Linked DNA regions of Homo sapiens: regions 1 and 3 are each linked to region 2. Evidence: fine-mapped expression QTL. A gene starts in region 2. Each other region holds a variant in brackets. All regions are shown on one strand. Distances are between the middles of the regions.

Region 1 (6,672 bases), 73 kb after region 2:
TTCTCAGACCAGAGAGAGGCATCAGGGTGTGAAGCACACACATTCCCTGCTGCCAATGCCACCTTACCCGTCATCATTCTGAGGTGGGAGGAAGGCAGATTTCGGCTACAATTGAAATTAGGAACCAGATTAAGAAGAGAAACTGTACAGACTTGTCAGGTGAGGAACAGGCTGATCTTTCCAACAGTCTTATGTAGAAAAGGAAGCTGCTGGCCCTCCTTAGCAGGTGGCTACCCACCAAAGCCCTGGGGCTGGGGCATAAGAGGCAGGAAAGTAATCTGAGTGTTAAAAGCCACCGGGCTGGGCACAGTGGTTCCTGTGTATAATTTTGGCACTTTGGGAAGTCGAGGCAGGATTGCTTGAGGCCAGCCTGGGCGAGATCATCTCTAGAACAAATAAAAAAAATTAGCCAGGCATGGTGGTGCATGCCTATAGTCCCAGCTGCTCGGGAGGCTGAGGTGGGAGGATCACTTGAGCTCAGGAGTTTAAGGCTGCGGTGAGCCATGATTGTGCCATGCACTCCAGCCTGGGCGACAGAGTGAGACCCTGTCCTCCCACCCCGACCAAAAAAACAAAAAAAGCCGGAGGGATTCCAACTCCCGGAACCCCAATTTACCAATGTGCTGTCATGTCTTAGCGACACGGAGAGACACTTTGCTTTCAGAAACCTTAATATGTTCTTACCTCTTGACAGTACAATTCAGACAACAGACTTGCTGCTTCAAATTTAACATCTTCGAACTGCGGGATCTAGTGACGTCCAGTTAAGGAAGTACAGACACTGCGAAAAAGGTCGGTTTGAAAGGGCCACAGCTTGGGGCTCCTACCCTGCCAAGGTCTGCAGGGCACACACGTCCCTGCCTGCCCTGAAATTCCAAGTTTTCCTGTTCCCCCAGTGAACCTTGAGCTTGCTGCAGGGCAGGGCTTGGAGCTGGATGCAAGGTACGAAGAGAAGCACAAAGAGGAGCACAGCGCCCAAGGGCAGCAGAGGGCCAGGTGGGGGACACTCCAGGTGCTCTGTGGGCCGAGCCTCAACTCACAGGGCATGTCGGGAGGTGGGATTCAAGCTTTGATACATTCTTTTTATTTAAGTGGAGAATTCCTTAAAGGGAACCATACCAACACGGAAAGGATACTTGCTGTGATATCAACCACTGAAAAAGAAAGAAAACAACGATTAATTCTCAGGCAAACACCTGGCACCTGGTTACTGGCTCGCTCTGGGGCTTCCACAGGTTGTCCTGAGAACAGAGGCTGCCAGGTATCCAGGTAACAAGAAGGCGGCCCGCTTGGCCTGAGAGGGTAGGCTTACTCCCCTCCAATCCAGCCAGGGGAATGGAAGCTATAGAGCCCCAGTGGGTGCCTGGGCAGGAGGGGACATGCCCTTCTGACATCAGAGGAGGGGCTCGCACTTGGAGTCAGACCCCACAGGCCCATGGGTGGGAGCTGCTTCAGAAAGGAACAGAGCTCAGAGGTGACCTGGCCACAGCAAGGCCCCCAGGTGTCACACGGAAGTAGGGCTGGCAGTCAGAGGTCAGGCAGAGAGGAAGGACGTTCAGCAAAGCATAACACGAGAAATCAGTTTCAACTGGAGAATGGGTCTTGGGGGGCAAGGTTAGTCCTTCTGAGCAAGAGGCATTTGAAAGATGCTTGGCTATAAGCAAAGTCAGTCTCTCAGAGGGGAGGGAGGGGGCTCCAGGAAGGGCTGACACAGGCAGAACTGCGGGATGGCACTGAAGATGCACACCAGGAAGGCAGTTCAGACAACAGGCTCCAACTCAGGGACCACTGTGCCCTAAAGTTCCATGTTCCAACAGTTCCCAGGCTAGTCCAGGCCACTGACCACAGCCCATCAGACCACCCAGGGTCCCAAGCACACAAGCCTAACGCTGTCCCCAGCGACTCGCATGTGCCACACACATTCAGAGCAACCTGCACCTGACAAGAGCCTCGGTGGTTGCTGGAAGGTGGATCCGGAGCACAGCAGGAGACCCTAACTCATCGCACTCTGTGGGAGGACTGCATGGGGCAGGGCAGCATGTGTGGCAAGTATGGGAAGTGAGGGGCCAGTTCTCCAGGAAAAGGGGGAGCAGGAGGTGCTCCAGGCACTGAAAAGCCCATAAAAAAGGCAGAGGGCCAGGGAGGTGAGGCTGAAGCCCGATGGTCTCTGCCACTCATGCGGCAACAGCGGCCACTCCTAGCTGAGGGTCAGAATGCCCTGGTGTCACCCCTGGAAGCTGACTCAGTCAGGGGTGGAAAATGAAAGCACCTGCCCAGATGGGAGTTTTCAGACCATCCTGGATGCAGCAGAGAGTATTCACGAAGGGAGTGCGGAGGAGCCAGTGAGGCCTGGAGATCCACGGCTGGGGGCAGCCTTGGGGCTGGAGATCTCTAGGGCAAGGGTGAGCAGCAGCTGGGAATGTCACAGGCACTGGGAAAGCACAGAGCTGCATCGAGAGCAGCTACTGCCAAGACACAGGGGGCCAGGAGGACAGCTGTGGGAGAGAGCCCGAGCCCCTGACACACATGCACCCACACGCAGGAGCCCAGACCACAGGCCCTCTGCCAGCCCAAGCGTCTGCCTCCTGTGGTCCCCTCTTGTGGCACGGACAGGAGGGGCTCGGGGTCCTCAGAGTGGCGGGGCCAGCACCTGCCGTCAGAAGTGTGGCCCCAGAGGTGAGGCTCCTCAGCTAGAGGCTGTGTGTGGGGACAGTGGCAACGTGTGTGATGCAACAGAAGAGCAGAAGTTGGGGGCTTTTTTCCACAGAAGCTGCTGCATCCCACTGAGAAGCCGGGTCTAACACAAGAAGCTCTGGAAGGCCACCAACTGGAAGGGATGCCCAATCACACAGGAGAGAGGGGACTGTGACAGAGGAGCCGTACTAGAGCTGGGCTGAGGTCTCCCTGAACCCTGAGATTTGGTGGTTCTGATTTGGGCACCATGGGGCTGGCAAGGGGGAGCTCTTCAGACACAGTCCAGGGTAGACAGCACTGCCACACACAAGCAGCAGCCCCAGCCTGGGTGAGCAAGGTGCAAACCTGGCACCTGCAGCTAAGCCTGGCACCTGTGACAAAGCTGGCCCCATTTCTGTCACTGCATCCCAGCAGAGGTAAGCAAGGCGACCAGTCAACACGTGAATTCCCCCTCCTCCCTTTGGGCGGAGAAGCTTTCCTTTCCAGTCTGTGGCCATGGGATGCTCTCCCCAGAGCTGACGACAGCCCACACGTGCATGTCTGTGGCGGGTAGACTTCAAAAGGACATGTCCAGTCACTTCATGCCTCAGAATACTACACCCCCTTCTACAAAGCTTTGGCCTATGCCACCGAGCTCAGGCCCATGTGGGTCCAACAATGTCTCCTCATAGCAACAGCTTTTCCTTTTTTTTGAGACACAGTCTCACTGTGTTGTCCAGGCTGGAGTGCAGCAGTACAATCAGAGCTCACTGCAGCCTTGACCTCCTGGGCTGAAGTGATCCTCCCACCTCAGCCTCCTGAGTAGCCGGGACTACTGGTGCGAACCACCACGTCTGGCTAATTTTTTTTATTTTTTGTAGAGATGGGGTCTGGCTACGCCGCCCAGACTGGTCTCGAGTTCCTAGGCTTGAGTGATTCTCCTGTCTTGGGCTTCAAAGGTGCTGGGATTACAGGCGTTGGACATCGTGCTTGGCCAGCAACAGCTTTGTGTCCCTTCTCC[A/G]TTTGGGGCCATGATGTGGCTAACATCAATCTATTCAGCACACAGTTGGACTGGACCTCATTTCTCCTGACCCCATGGACATCTCTTCTTTTTTTTTTTTGAGATGGAGTTTCGCTCTTGTTGCCCAGGCTGGAGTGCAATGGGATAATCTCAGCTCACCGCAACCTCCGCTTCCCAGGTTCAAGTGATTCTCCTGCCTCAGCCTCCCAAGTAGCTGGGATTACAGGCATGCGCCACCATGCCTGGCTAATTTTTGTATTTTCAGTAGAGATGGGGTTTCTCTACGTTGGTCAGGCTGGTCTCAAACTCCTGACCTCAGGTGATCTGCTCGCCTTAGCCTCCCGAAGTGCTGGGATTACAGGCGTGAGCCGCAGCGGCTGGCCAAGACATCTCTTCTTTACAAGCCAGATATGCCTGCTGCTAACGGGCTCGCCTCTCTGCCAGCTCCGTCCGTCCACGGGTGGGCTAGACAGAGAGGATCCCATCTCCCCTGAGGAAGGGGAGGCTCTCAGTGAGCACTGGTGAGCTGGGAAGTAATGTGCCCAAAGGCTCCAAATACAAGCATTCTCTTGTGGAAGGCGTCCACTAGCGTCAGTGGGTGTCAGGAGCGCTGACTGGGAGCCAGAGGATTGGGTTCAAGGTGTGGATCCACTGTGAGTTAGCGATGCTCTAAGGCACTGGAGAAATTACATCCTAGCGCTTTTTAACATCCGTTTCCCATGTAGCTTTATCGCCCACTTCAAATACATACAAACAGAGGACATTAGATAAAGCCCCTCTTTTTGTGACCGGCCTGGGCAACACAGCGAGACCCTGTCTCTCGCTCTAAAAAAAAAAAAAAAAAAAAAAAATCAGCCAGGCATGGTGGTGCATGCTGTAATGCCAGTTACTTGGGAGGCTGACGTGGGAGGATCACTTGAGCCCAGGAGTTTGGGGCTGCAGTGAGCTATGATTGTGCTGTTGCACTCCAGCCTGGGCAACAGGGCAAGACCCTGACTCTTACAAAAAAAAGCCCCATGATGTTTGACTTTAAAGTTGTGGCTGCAATGCCTGCAGCAAGCTGACATCCAGTAGGTGCTCGGGAAACATCTGCTGATCGAACGATGGCTTTATCCACTTGGATAATGAGTAGAGTTCATTAGAGGAAAGTGAGGGCTTCTGTGTAAGTGCAAATGGCCACAGAACGGAGGCGTATGCCTTTCAGACACAAAGCCCTAAATGGCATGGGATTTCTCCCTGTCTTTAAATGCCACTGCTTCTTCACTGGGACATCAGTGACACCTGGATCTCTCTGCATGAGGACACACATTCCTGAAGGGCAGTATGGGCCTGGTGTCAGGGTGAGCCAGTCAATTCCCCAGGGCCATCAATCTGACACCTACTAAATGACTTCACTTTTGTATCTTTGTTAGAGTTTTGTTTTTCTTTTTTTTTTGTAGAGACAGGGAAGGTCTTGCTATGCTGCACAGGCTGGTCTTGAACTCCTGGGCTCAGGTGATCGTCCCATTTCAGCCTTCCAAAGTACTGGGATTGCAGTTGTGAGCCACCTCACCCAGCCCTCTGTATGACTTGTAGCATATATTTGGAAATCAGAAAAATATATCCATCTCACAAATAAAGGATGTAGAATGCCTTACCCAAGGTTGCTACCTCATCTACGTGATTTTTTTTTTTTTGAGACGGAGTTGCACTCTGTCGCCCAGGCTGGAGTGCAGTGGCGCGATCTCAGCTCACTGCAAGCTCCACCTCCCAGGTTCACGCCATTCTCCTGCCTCAGCCTCCTGAGTAGCTGGGACTACAGGCGCCCGCCACCACGCCTGGCTAATTTTTCTTTGTATTTTCAGTAGAAATCGGGTTTCACCATGTTAGCCAGGACGGTCTCGGTCTCCTGACCTTGTTATCTGCCTGCCTCGGCCTCCCAAAGTGCTGGGATTACAGGTGTGAGCCACCGTGCCCGGGTGTTTTTTTTTTTTAACTTTGTAATGCTAAAAAGTAGCTTTTATGTTTCCTTCCTTATGATAGCAAAGCAGCCAAAGTGAGAGGCTGCAGGGAGCAGGGCAAGGAGGTGACTGTCTCCATCAGCAGCCCCTGGGGTCACCTTAGGGTTCTCAGGGAAAGCAAGAGAGGGTTGCAACAGGGCCAACAGGTTTCAAGTGGGGTGGAAGGGTCCAGACCAGCACAGCTCTGGTGCCTGGAGGATTCAGTCCAGGGCTGAGTGTTTCAAGGCTTCTTATTCCTTAAAACCAAAGTAACTTTTAAAAAAAAGGCTTTTTTTGATTGTAGTTTTTAGACATGGTATCCCTCTGCCACCCAGGGGGAGTGCAGTGGTCCTCACTGTAACCTCAAACTCCTGGGCTCAAGAGATCCTCCTGGCTCGGTCTCCCAAGTAGCTGGGACTACAGGTGCATCTCACCAGGTCCTACTAATTTTGTTTTTTGAGATGAATTTTCGCTCTTGCTGCCCAGGCTGGAGTGCAATGGTGTGATCTTGGCTCATGGCACCCTCCGGCTCCCGGGTTCAAGCGATTCTCCTGCCTCAGCCTCCCGAGTAGCTGGGATTACAGGCATGCGCCATCACGCCTGGCTAATTTTGTATTTTCAGTAGAGACGGGGTTTCTCTATGTTGGTCAGGCAGGTCTCGAACTCCTGACCTCAGGTGATGCACCCGCCTTGGCCTCCCAAAGTGCTGGGATTACAGGCGTGAGCCATGGCGCCTGGCAGGCCCAACTAATTGTTTTACTTTTTTGTAGAGATGGGGGTCTCGCTATCTTGCCCAGGCTGGTCTCAAACTCCTGGGCTCAGGAGATACTACCACCTCAGCCTCCCAAAGTGCCGGGATTACAGGCGTGAGCCACCATGCCTGGCCTGTTGTTGTTTTGTTTTTATAAGAGACAGGGTTGGCTGGGAGCAATGGCTCACGCCTGTAATCCTGGCACTTTGGGAGGCCAAGACAGGTGGACTGCTTGAGCTCAGGAGTTT
Region 2 (6,676 bases):
CCAACTTGTTCTTCTGGTTCTGCCACACTTCCCAACCAGACAAGGGTTAGGAGGAAATCCCAGGGATGCTCTATTACCCCAGGACAGCTGCTCGAGAAGACTTCACCCACTCACCTATTTCATAATCTTCCTAGTTTTCTACAACCAGCATAAATTAACTCAATTATGGGGGGGAAAGGTCTAGAGAAAATAGCCCTGCCTGTTCCATTTGATGGCACAGAAACACCCCGAGTCCAAGCAGGTAGTTCTCCAGAAAAGCATCTGAGCTGCCCAGGCTTTGAGGTGTCAGTACATGCTAATGATGGTCCTTAAACAAATTCAGTGGTAAGGGCCATTACATTTTTGTCTCTGTTGGGAATTCATATATCCAAAACTCTGCTGGTCATTCTTAATTTTCTTCCAAGAGAACAAACACCAAAAAAAAAAAAAAAAAAAGCCAACATTTCAAGAATGGCTTTACAACTTTACCAGCCACATTCTTCAGAGGCATCCTTTAGTCATCTGCTAAGACCCAAAGAGGTCCCGGCTGTGAGCCTCACTGCACCAGCCCTTGCCTTAATCCCCTTCAAGAGGGTCCCCCTTCTTGTTCTCTGACCCCAGTAGGAGAAAGGTCCTTTCGGGCTCACCAGGTCACAGTGTCCTTCTCTCCTTGATCCCTGTAAGTTTCCCCATGTTTATAAGATTAATTACGACTCCTGGCCCACTAATCTCACTATAAACTCTACTGAGGAGGGATTCCTCGCAGTGTCGAAGGCACAGTATGCACTCTGATATTTGTTGAATATATCAATCTAGAAATCACTACCTGCAATGCCAGAAATTCAGAAAATAAATGATGCAAAACAAGTCAGAGGAGCTACTGAAGAGTTGAAAATTAGAGTATTTAAAACATGTTTCCTCATTAAAAACATACACACACACGCAAAATACAGAGACACTAAAAAGTTTTCTAAAAAAGAAAAACTATTGCTAATCCTAATGTAGAGACCTTTATTGACATTCTGGTACAAATCCTTCCAGGATTTTTTCCTACCGAAAGTAGCATTATATTTTTCCCTCACTATCAAAATATAAGATTATAGGATTTGCCAAATGATACTGCATTAATAGAGATGACTTGACATTTTAAAAAATGATGTCATCTGAGTGGAAATAACAATGCATCCGCCAGGCGTGGTGGCTCACGCCTGTAATCCCAGCACTTTGGGAGGCTGAGGTGGGCAGATCACGAGGTCAGGAGTTCGAGACCAGCCTGGCCAGCATGGTGAAACCCCGTCTCTACTAAAAATACAAAACTTAGCCGGGCATGGTAGTCCCAACTACTCGGGAGGCTGAGGCAGGAGAATTGCTTGAACCTGAGAGGCGGAAGTTGCAGTGAACCAAGATCGTGCCACTCCAGACTGGATGACAGAGCGAGACTCCGTCTCAAAAAAACAAACAAACAAACAAAACACACTGCATCCAAATCTTTCCATTCTCTATAGCCCTTCCAAGATGAGAAGCAATCTTCATAAAAACCAGCTTCGGAATTTTATGAGACAAATAAGAACTGAAAGATGAAGGAGGGGAGGGAATAAGTGAAGACAGAGGATACAGAAAATCCCTTGCAAATTTCCCACATCCTATAAACTGTTTCCTCTAGAAAAGGGCCAACTTTTCTGAGTCCAAAGCTGAAGAAGCGAATGCAAAGTAGCAACTAACTCTGTAGTTCAGTTCCTTAAAATCCAGCTGGTAACGCTGCTCCACTAGAACAAAGCAGGGCTAGCATGGTGTCCCCATGTCACCAGATTATCCCCTACATCCGCAAACAGAGGTGCCCTGGATCCTGGACAAGAAAATGGCCTTGTATTTTAGAAGCGCCAGGGAAATGCTCACTAGGGTTCGCAAACTGCAGCATTTGTGGGCTCTAGAGCACCAAGTACGGGCTGCCTGGCTCTGCCTCACTACTAAGAGGCCTTGAGCAAGCCGCCTGGCCTCCAGCAGCCCCAATTTCCTGACCTGTAAAGCGCAGATAATACTTCCCTACTCCCCACGGGATTGTTATAGGCACTGAATATGTCTGTGCAGGGGAGCTTAGCACACAGTAGGCACTCAAACCCGAGGGCTAGTATGAGCTATCAGCCCTCCACAGCTTGTGGTCAGGTCTGACAAACTACTGCTTAGCATATGTTAACAAACTGGTGCCAACAAACATTATTTCATGTAATCTAGTTTAAAAGAAAACTTGTAACGACTACCAGAAGAGTTAAGTCAGTCAACAGGACTACAGTCCAAGACTGAGACACCCGCACAGAGGGCTCTCAGTTTCTGTGCTGCCACAGCCAGGAGGTGTCACTGTGTGAATGGGCACACAGAACCAGAGATGTAACCAGCACTATGTACTCCAAGAAAACTGAAAGAAGTAAACTGGTAGGAAGAAAGAAAATTAAAGGCTCAAGTGACTCACTCGGACTTTGATCTAAAGAATCCACAGCTCTTAAGATAAGGATGAACTATACACCTAAAGACGTTAAGTCAGACCTACAAAATTTTGCCCTGTGCAAAATTCTCAGGGCAGAAACACGCACCTAAGGGTTGTCATTCACTTCCTAAGGGAGGGGTCACCATTCATTTCTGGGTCCCAGTGTGCGCACAATCCAAGTGTCCGTCAGGCTCTCAGCCTGGGCCCTGCCCATAAGCCTTTCCTTGTTGAAGTGATCAATTCCGATTCTTGGCAATAATCCCTTTAAAAGGCCAGCTGCTGCTGTCTAGTCACTGATGCCGACCCACTCTAGGTGGGAAAAAAGAAATCAATGGAGCCACCGCCTAGATGGGGAGGCAAATTTAAAGTGTCGGGCCTTGAGAAAGGCCGGAGATCAGAGAGGGGAAAGGGTCCCGCGGCTCCCGGGGGTTAGGCAGGAAGGGCGCGAGCTGGGGGAGGGCCGGCCCTCCAGGCGTGGGCGCGCGGGGACTCTTATTCTGACACGGGATCCGCCGCCGCCGCCGCCGCCGCCGCCGCGGGGTTCAGCGTTGCTGCCCAACCCGCCCCGGACCCCCGCCCCTGAGCGGGACCCCCGCCCCGCGCGCCCACGTGCCGTCTTCCCGCCGCCTCCACCCGTCCCGACCACTCGGAAGAGGCGCCTCGCGGCCCAGCCCTTCCCCCGACCCCGCAGGAAGCGCAGGACGGAAGCGGGGCGACGCCGCGACTTTCCGGGACCCCCGCCCGGCCCCCACGTGCCCGGGCCGCCTCGGGGCAAGGAACTTTCCAGGGCAGCGCAAGAAGACGCTCCCAGAATACAAGGAGTAGAACTCGCTCGCTCTCACTTTTCCACGCTCATGCAGGGGTCCTTCAGAGCCCCCCGAGGCCCCGACCCTGCGCGGCCCGCGCCGCTCCAGTCTCAGCCGTGCGTCCCCAGCCCCCGCCCCCCGCCAAGTTTGGTCCAGAACTTACCGGGCCGCGGGTCGGCCGGGCCCTAGGGCAGCGCGCAGGTTACGGGGGCTGCTGGTCCGGGGTCGCCCGCGGGGCCGGGCGGCGGAGGGGCCGGGGACGCCGGGCCGCGCGCGCTCGTTCCGCCTGTGGGGCCGCCCGGGCCCGCGGCGCTCGCTGCGCCGGTCCGCCCGCCCGCCCGCGCCGCCGGCCAGATAATGCGCCCCTCGGCCGCACACATGGAGCCCGGCGCCGGCGTCACCGCCCGGGACATGCGCACCAGGTCAGCGCGCCCGGCCCGCGGCCCCCAAAACACCGGGGAGCTCTTAAAGGCGACGCCGCCCGCCCGCGCCCGGCTGGGCGGGGCGTGGCGACCGAGGGGCGGGGCCTGACGAGAAGGGAGGAGCTCGTGGGCGGGGTTCCAGGCGTAGAAGGCGGGCCCCTGAGTTGAGGGGGCGGGGCCGGACGGTACCGCCCCGGAAGCACCGCCCCTCTCCGGCGCGCTCCCACGCGACACCTCGTTGGGCGCGCTGGTTTCCCACGCGGGCTCCGGCTGGCTCCCTCCCCGCCGAGTCCCAGCGCCCTCCGCAGGCCGAAGGGTCGTGGCCAACTCACCGGCGGCAAAGCCGGGCGGGCCGCACCCAAGGCTGACTCACGACGCGCTCACTGCTGACCTCGCGCCAGCTGAGCTGGGCGACCTCAAGCAACTCAGGGTTGCCTCTGAAACGCGGGTTAGAATGTCACCCCCGCGGGGTCGTCACGCGGAAGCTCTTCTCTGGGAACTTCGGCCCCGGTGTCTGTGGGGAGGGCGGGGTGTGGATCGGCTGAACGATCACTTCTCCAGTGCAGTGAACAGAATTCTACAAAGAAAGCTCCAGACCCACCCACCTCAAGACACTTGGGGACGACTGCTCTCCCTCTCCAGTTACCTCCCAATCTGCCCTCGTGCCTCAGGGAGAAGGTGAAAACCCCTCAAGAAAGCAAATCTGCACCCCTCCCTCTCCAGTAACAAGGAGGAAACACAGGAGACAGAATGAAAGCCTGAAAGAGAATGGACTTTGGAGATGTTAAACTACATAAAGCGAAATACAATTTCAATAGGGAAAATATCAAGTTCATGGAAAATCTACCACAAGAAGGCTCTCAATACCAAAATCAGGTTCTGAGGAATCCCCAAAACCGCCTCTTTTCATGTTGTTTTAAAACAAACGATTCCTGATGAGACACCTAGACTCCTGAAGAGTGGTGGTGACATGCTTTATCGCATACCCTAATAAATCTATATGTACAACTGAAACAAAAGTTTCACCAAACATAAATTTACCACATGCAACGTACTGTTTTCTTTTTTCTTTTTTTTGGAGACAGAGTCTTGCTCTGTCGCCAGGCTGGAGTGGTGCAGTGGCGCTATCTCGGCTCACTGCAACCTCCACTTCCCAGGTTCACGGATTCCCCTGCCTCAGCCTCCCCAGTAGCTGGGATTACAGGCGCGTTCCATCACACCCGGCAATTTTTTTTTTGTATTTTAGTAGAGACGGGGTTTCACCATCTTGGCCAGGATGGTCTCCATCTCCTGATGTCGTGATCTGTTCGCATCGGCCTCCCAAAATGCTGGGATTACAGGCATAAGCCACTGCACCCAGCCTGTACTGTTATTTCTATTCTACTTCATTTGAAAAGAAAATCAATGTAACGCCCAAGAATAATTGGGTCTCAACCGCAAACCTGAAAAACACTTCATGTAGAACAAATTTTACAAAATTGTTTTTCTAAAAAAAAAAAAAATTGTTTTTCTGCTGTATGTCCCCTTAAACAGAGTTCAAAAAAGCTCCTAATTCTGTGTTGAGTTCTACATACAATTGTCAACTTTTTGTAGTTTATTCCACCCCGCCACCTCACACCTCCCCAAACACACCGCCCTGCCCCCCAAAATCTTCCCACTACTTAATGCAACATCTGGCACAACCTCCCCTAGGCCAAAAGAGAATTCAACCTAAAAATGATACAAAATACAAACTGTTGACTCCCAATCACTTTCCCTGACCCAGTTATGTCACCAATTTGCTTTGCTTTGCTACAAAGAAATTCAAATGTTCAAATTCAGAAACCAAACAAACAAAACAGTCTTATTCTCAAACAGGTGACTCGGTATAGGAATTCAAAGAGCTCCCTGATCCCAAGCGCAAGGTTGGTTTAGGGCAACCATCCAGGTTTTTCACCCTAACATGGTGGCTGTATATTTTAAGAACTGCTTCATGCTACGATCATTAATCAGATGATGTATATTAAAGCAATACAAGCAAACTATTACCTCACTGCTCCTCACCTGGGTCTTGATTAATGTCAATTTAATTAACTACAAACAGAGCAAAGTGTGGTCAGGTGGGAGACCTGACACTTGAGACAGATATACAGATTCCAGAGTTTGAGCCAGCAAGCCCTGTGTGAGTCACCAGGGTGACAACCACCCCTTTTTTTTTTTAAGAGGGAGGCATCAACTGCAACACATTAATGACACACCCCTGTGGAGTGAGGGGTGCACTGGTGACAGGGCCTGCTCCAGAGGGCAGTGCCAACTTCTCAGCCAGGAAAGTCGGACGGGGAGTAGGAGGGGTGCAGGGTATGTAGGTGGGGTGAAATAGCTACAGGGTTTATTTCTGTCTGTCATAGGAAGACAGGGTCAGATGGGTAGATGGTAAGTGACAGTGAATCCAGATCTGCTTGGGGTCCCATAGGCTCAGGTTGGGTGAATGCTGAGGCTGTTTGGATTAAAGATCTTTTAGCCTCAGTGCCCAGTGCTGGACTAAACAGCAAATAGTTCAGCTGGGTGATTATGAAATATGATGCAATCACCTTCAGATGCCATACTAAAGCTGAAGAAACTCTAATTAAGAAACAACTAGGGCTAGAACCATGTTTTCTAAAAGTTTTCTCTCTGATCTGAAAACAAAGACAGTCAATACTTAGTGCTGGCAGGGCACAGTGGCTCACGTCTGTAATCCCAGAACTTTGGGAGGCCGAGGCATGTGGATCACCTGAGGTCAGGAGTTCCAGACCATCGTGGTCAACACAGTGAAACCTCATCTCTACTAAAAATACAAAAATTAGCCAGACATGGTGGTGCACGCCTGTAATCCCAGCTACTTAGAAGACTGAGGCAGGAGAATCGCTGAACCCAAGAGGCGGAGGTTGCAGTGAGCCAAGATCGCGCTATTACGCTACAGCCTGGCCGACAGAGCCAGAATCCATCTCAAAAAAAAAAAAAAATCA
Region 3 (5,923 bases), 49 kb after region 2:
AAGCAATGATCCATGCTACAGTGCAGATGAACCTTGAAAACATAGTGCTGAGAGATCCCAGGCTACAAGAGGTCACAGGGTATGAGATTCCATTGATATAAAATATCCAGAACAGGCAAATTCACAGACAGGAAGCAGATTACTAGTTGCCAGGGGCTTGGGGAGGGAGGAGGAATGAGGAGTGACTGCTGATGGCAATGAATCTCCTTTTGGGGGAATGAAAATGTCCCAGAACTAGATAGAGATGATAACTGTGCAACACTGTGAACGTACTGAATACCACTGAGCAGTCCACTTTACAGATAATACTATTTTATATACATATAAAATAGAGCAAGACTCTGTCTCTGCTAATATCCTCCTGGGTTCAAGTAATCCTCCCGCCTCAGCCTCCTAAGTAACTGGGACTACAGGAACACACCACCATGCCTGGCTATTTTTTTTTTTCGAGGTAGAGTCTCCCTCTCTCGCCCAGGCAGTGGTGTGATCTTGGTTCATTGCAAACTCTGCCTCCGGGTTCAAGCGATTCTCCTGCTTCAGCCTCCCGAGTAGCTGGGATTACAGTTGTGCGCCACCATACCGGCTAATTTTTATATTTTGTATTTGTATTTATTTATTTTTTGAGAGAGAGAGTCTTACTCTGTCACCCAGGCTGGAGCACAGTATCAGGATCTTGGGTCACTGAAACCCTCCACTCCCTGGTGCAAGTGAATCTCCTGCCTCAGCCTCCTGAGTAGCTGGGACTACAAGTGCACGCCACCACACCCGGCTAATTTTTGTATTTTTAGTAGAGACAGGGTTTCACTATGGTGGCCAGGCTGGTCTCAACTCTTGGCCTTAAGTGATCCGCCCACCTCGGCTTCCCAAAGTGCTGGGATTACTGGCTTGAGCCACGGCACCTGGTTGCCTGGCTAATTTTTATACATTTTTTGTAGAGACTAGGTCTCACTATGTAGCCCAGGCTGTTCTTGAACTCCTGGGCTCAAGGGATCCTCCTGCCTCGGCCTCCCAAAGTACTGGGATTACAGGCGTAAGCCAGCACAACCTGCAAAAAAAGTTAAATTTGTTATGGTAATTTCACCTCCAAACAAAAAAATCTGGGCAAATAACTCCCCTCACTCCCAGGTGTATGGAGGCTGGTCCCCTCTAAGAATGCAGGGACCGGCTGGGCGCGGTGGCTCAGGCCTGTAATCCCAGCACTTTGGGATGCCAAGGCAGGTGGATCACGAGGTCAGGAGTTCAAGACCAGCCTGGCCAACACAGTGAAATGCTGTTCCTACTAAAAATACAAAAAATTAGCTGGGCTTGGTGGCGGGCACCTGTAATCCCAGCTACTTGGGAGGCTGAGGCAGGAGTATCGCTTGAACCTGGGAGGTGGAGGTTGCAGTGAGCAGAGATCGCGCCTCTGCACTCCAGCCTGGGCGACAGTGCAAGACTCCATCTCAAACAACAACAACAACAAAAAAAAACACAGGGACCAGGACACCTGGGTGCATGAGGGAGTCTGCCCCTGAGAGGGCTGGGAAGGGAGGATTCCAGGAGCAGGCTGCTGAAGGCCTCATATGCTGATGGAGCATGGGGTTCCTTCCTCTCTAGGCGAGGCCAGACCAGAGGAAAATGATCAGTGGAGGAGATGGGGACTCAGGCTTCCATTCACGTCATCTGGCTCAGGATTTGGGGACTGCATCCTCATGCTGAAGACCCCGCCACAGAGGGGGCCCCTGTGGGCATGGCAGCAAGGGTGGCAGCCGTCTTTGGGATGGCTCACAAAGCGGACAGAGGAAACAACAAAGACACAGCACGTGGCTCCTGTAAGTCATTTTACTTTGAATATATAGGAAACAAAATCCACAAACAGGAAGCTATGTTCTATGGTTATGTCTTTTAAACAATGTTCTGTATTTACAAATTGTTTTTTTCCCTAAGTAAAAGCACCAGCTGAAAAGTTATAGGCTGCTAAAACCGTTACAAATATTACAAACCCATTAAAAGACATTATGCCAAACGTACTTATTAAAAACCTTAACAAAACGAAGAGACAACTGACAACGCAACCAACCAATTGAGCCACCATGCTGGGCTGGGTGGCAGTTCCAATTTCCTTGCCTGTGTTTCTGATAAACGGGGCTGGGAGTGCTTATCCCAGGGAGAGGATCCTCGCCCACCGGCAGGTGACTACAGGGACAGAGCTGGGGAGAGGCAGCTGTGTCTCAAGGAAACATGGCAGCCTCACTTCCTGCTGTAGGTGGCCTCCTGGTCAGACCCCCTCAACCCACAGGACAAGGGCAGAGGCATACAGGAGGGTCTGGCCAGCTTTCGGCTGTTCATCTGTCAACAGAATGCCTTTCTGCGACCTTGTCCTCATCCACTGAAGGGTTTGGAGTTTTTGTTTTTTCCTAGACACTTAGCTACAGGACACTGTGTGATGTGTCCTCAGGGACTTGCTGTCTGCCTTCCATTGTTTTTTTTTTTTTTTTTGAGACAAAGTCTCACCGTCACCCAGGCTGGAGTGCAGTGTCGCGATCATGCTCACTGCAGCCTCAATCTCCTGGGCTCAAGTGATCCTCCTGCCTCAGCCTCCCAGTTAGCTGGGACTACAGGCATGCGCCACCGTGTCTGGCCTCTATTCTTGCAATTGAATGAGATGCTATGAGGCGCTGAGCGACCCACAGGAAAGTACTTATCAAAAGCTTTGTGTCATGAGAAGATGCGGCTGTGGAAGGAGGTTCAAAGCTTGCACACACGCACACACACACATGCACATGATTTGGCTTCCATAAAGCTCGAGTAGAATATTAAATATTGAGTACTGAGTTTTTAATTGTAAACTTAAGATCTCATCCTTAACTTTACATATACATAGATAACAGGGTGGTCATGAAAAGCACTTTAACATCAGGACAGATGTTAAGTTCTGAGGTTCTGTTTTCAACTGCTCTACATACAAAATGCCCTACAAGCAAAGAAAGGCTTAAATAAATAGATGGGGATGAACATGATGCACGCCGTGGTGACATGAGTGGTGTGCAGGGGTCGGACAGTGCGGAACCCGGGTGGGCAGGAGCACATTGTGGAGACACAAGTGGTGGCATCTCTGGGATGTAGGGGAGGATGTGGGGGGCTCCTTCAAGGTGGAGCTAGCAGAGGCCATGGCTCGGGAGGAAGACAGGACAGGGACAGTTTGTGGGCCAGTGCCACACGCTCTCCTATTGGCTTCATGGGCCTGGGGGCAGCCCTGGGTAGCAAAGGACAGGGCCAGGCTCTCCCCCTGGAGACCCAGAGATGGCGGTGGTCCTCTTAGGACAAACCCTCACCAGCCCCGCCCTCTGACCAGCCTGTCACTGGTGCTGATGTCAGGTGGTGGCCAGTGAGGAAGGGGGTTATTGACAGCCCTGCCTGTGGCTAAGGCACACCCAGCCTGGGAGCCCCAAGCAGCTGACCTGAGCAATCCAGCGTCCCTTTAGTCACAGACGCCAAAGCTCCCAGAGGCAGTTCCACTGAGTGAGGGTGACAAGACCTAAAACCACCACCTACCCTGCTGAGCAGGACCCCCACCCCCTGTAGCAGGGAGAGGCTCCTGGGCCCCAGAAGCTGGAGGGGGTGGTGTCTTGAGCCCTGACACCTGCTGCTGCTATCTTGACCCGACCACCCGCCCCAACTCGGAATGCCACACTGTGACCACTGGGGCACCTCCTGATTATCCAAGAAAAGTGGATAAAACCAAACGCTGCTGTCTGGGCCCAGCGGAGGCTCCCTGGGGCCTGGCTAGGGTGCGGGTTTCACACTGTGCCCCAGAGACCCAGCAGGGAAGGTGAGGCGGT[G/A]GAGGGAGTGGGGGGACCAAGAGGCTGAGCAGGGAAGGCCACAGATCTGCCAGGAAGAAAGTCCCTGGGCTCCAGATCTCGGGGGCGGGGGGCCCGTGCCACGCACTCTAAGCTAGCTGAGGAGGTGATCTTAAATTTAGGAGACGAGCCCACTCCCCCGCTTCCTGCCCCTCAGCAGCCACAAGATGGGGGAAGGTGGCTGGTGCAACAGGAGCCTCAGCTCCCAGCTCCATCTCCACAGATCTTCACCGCACACCCGTGTGCATCCACATGCACACCCGTGTTTACAATCACCTGCACCCCCACGGCGGGATGGCGAGTCCGGTCAAGGTGCAGATGTTTGGAAGCTGAGTTCCTGGGTCCCTGAGGGTTCCTGACCAGAGGCCCCAGCTGCTGCAGGGACTGATGCTGGAGAGAAAGCTGGGAAAAGTGCTGGGATCTGTGCTTCGTCCCACACTAGCGCCATTACTTCTTCCCTCCAAATTCAGGCCAGAAACTGGCATCCGGGCTCTGGAAATTGCCTTGAGCAGAGGAAACACTCTACTCCCGCTCGGCATCAAGGCCTGGGTGATGGAGAGTCAGGCGTGGTGCCCCTGGGGCACTGCCTGCCCTGGCACACAGGATTAGGACCTGCTGGAGGCCTGCACCCTACTCCTGGCCGACGTGACCCAGATGCTGAGGCAGGACTGGCACTGAGGTCCACTCTGAAGGATGGCTCTGGAGAGACAGCGCCTGTGTGCCACCTGTGAGCCTCTGCACTGGGGGTCCTGCTGCGAGGTGGGAACGGCTACCACCCCTCCTGGGAGGGCAGGGACTGGCCCCGCACATTCCCAGGACTTGGAAGCTCTAGAGACAATCAGGAAGGAAGCACGCCTCGGGGGCAGGCTTGAGTGCCGTCTGGGTGGAAGCCGGAGACGCGCAGGCCCTGCGGAGCTGGATGGCCCCATCAAGGCCTCACAGGAGGCTGGCCAGGCTGGTGTTGGGTCCATTCTGAGCTTGGAACTGCACGGGGGGTGGACCGTCTGTCCACTGTGGGGAGGAGAGGACATGCGAGTGAGGCACTGTGGACCGTTCCCAGGGAAGAAGAGGTTGGAATGCTGCCTTCCTTGGGCTGCTCACACAGCCGGGACTCTGTTCTCCATGCCCCAGTCCAATGGGCCCCGAGGAGACACCTGGGTCCCTTGCTTGGGTGGGGGTGCCCATGGCCATCTCCCCCATCAAGGGATCACCTGAGGCTGAGTTAGGGTTTGTTGGACAAAAGAGAAATACAGCCAAGGTGCCCCTTCCTCTTGCAGGTGGGGAGCCCGCTAGTCCTGATCCCGTCCCCTAACACCCACACCCGTACCGTGATGAGGTTGTGTTCGGGGAGGCTGCAGGCCTCAATGTGGTCCTGGAGCAGCTGCTGCGAGAAGTTCTGGTGCATCTGGGCGGCTTCATGGGCATCCATGGCGTTCCCACAGGCTTTATTCAGGTCTGAGAGTGGGACATGAGCATGGGGGCCCGCCTTGCCCTGTCACTGCCCAGGCCCTCCCACTCGGTGCAGATGGAGCCCTAAGGTCAAGTCCCAGCTGCACTGGTGGATCTCTGGGTGCCTGGCACGTCACTGGACCTGAGCCCTGTCTTGGGATCACAAAGCCCATGCGCCAGCCGCCCTCATAGGGCAGAACAGGGCTGGCTGGGCAGTGAAAGCCCAATGCCAGGCTTCTCGCCAGCCCTCCAGGGAGCCCATGGCCAGCCCTCAGGCAAACAGGCGCTCATTGGGGCAGGACGCCCAATGCCCATCCTGAGGCAGCAGCCCCAGGCAGCCCACTGCACATGGAGCACCCCGTCTCCTGTCACCTCCCCAGGGCCCCAGGCGAGTCTCCGGACCTTAGTTTCGTAATCTGGAAATGGGGGAGCTGCGGTAACAGCAATGATACCCGCTGAGTGCCCGCCCTGCTCCCAGAGCTAGCTGGCCAGCCCTACCCAATAGGTATGGCTGCTGTCTGCCTTTCCGGGAAGAAGCAAGGCTGAGAGCGCCACGGCTAACAGCCCAAGTCTACCAGATACCAAGTCGCAGCCTCTGTGTCCTATAGAGACTGAACCAGACCCCGAGTCAAGCG

What was found. PIP is the estimated chance that this variant, and not a neighbour inherited with it, causes the effect. A credible set is the group of variants that fine-mapping cannot tell apart.
Region 1: its variant is the best candidate, but not a certain one, in a credible set for the expression of GATAD2A in whole blood (INTERVAL, PIP 0.86).
Region 3: its variant is the best candidate, but not a certain one, in a credible set for the expression of GATAD2A in esophagus mucosa (GTEx, PIP 0.83).

What each region holds. Positions count from the first base shown.
Region 1 is chr19:19,330,200-19,336,871 of GRCh38, reverse strand. It overlaps MAU2 (MAU2 sister chromatid cohesion factor), which reads right to left. Exons shown (of 19, transcript NM_015329.4): 2 at 1,137-1,154; 3 at 685-750. Among named protein-coding and RNA genes, the nearest start is that of MAU2, 13 kb to the right of the region's middle. RefSeq lists an enhancer at 1-1,189. The variant A/G (reference allele first, on the strand shown) is at 3,695.
Region 2 is chr19:19,402,774-19,409,449 of GRCh38, reverse strand. GATAD2A (GATA zinc finger domain containing 2A) reads right to left here and starts at 3,775. Exons shown (of 12, transcript NM_001384528.1): 1 at 3,431-3,775. RefSeq lists silencers at 2,904-2,983, 3,544-4,093 and enhancers at 2,804-3,710, 4,214-4,273, 3,711-4,619.
Region 3 is chr19:19,354,635-19,360,557 of GRCh38, reverse strand. It overlaps MAU2 (MAU2 sister chromatid cohesion factor), which reads right to left. Exons shown (of 19, transcript NM_015329.4): 18 at 5,167-5,294; 19 at 1,804-4,850. The coding sequence ends at 4,776. LOC124904656 (a long non-coding RNA gene) reads left to right here. Exons shown (of 2, transcript XR_007067163.1): 2 at 1,597-1,847. Among named protein-coding and RNA genes, the nearest start is that of MAU2, 37 kb to the right of the region's middle. The variant G/A (reference allele first, on the strand shown) is at 3,822.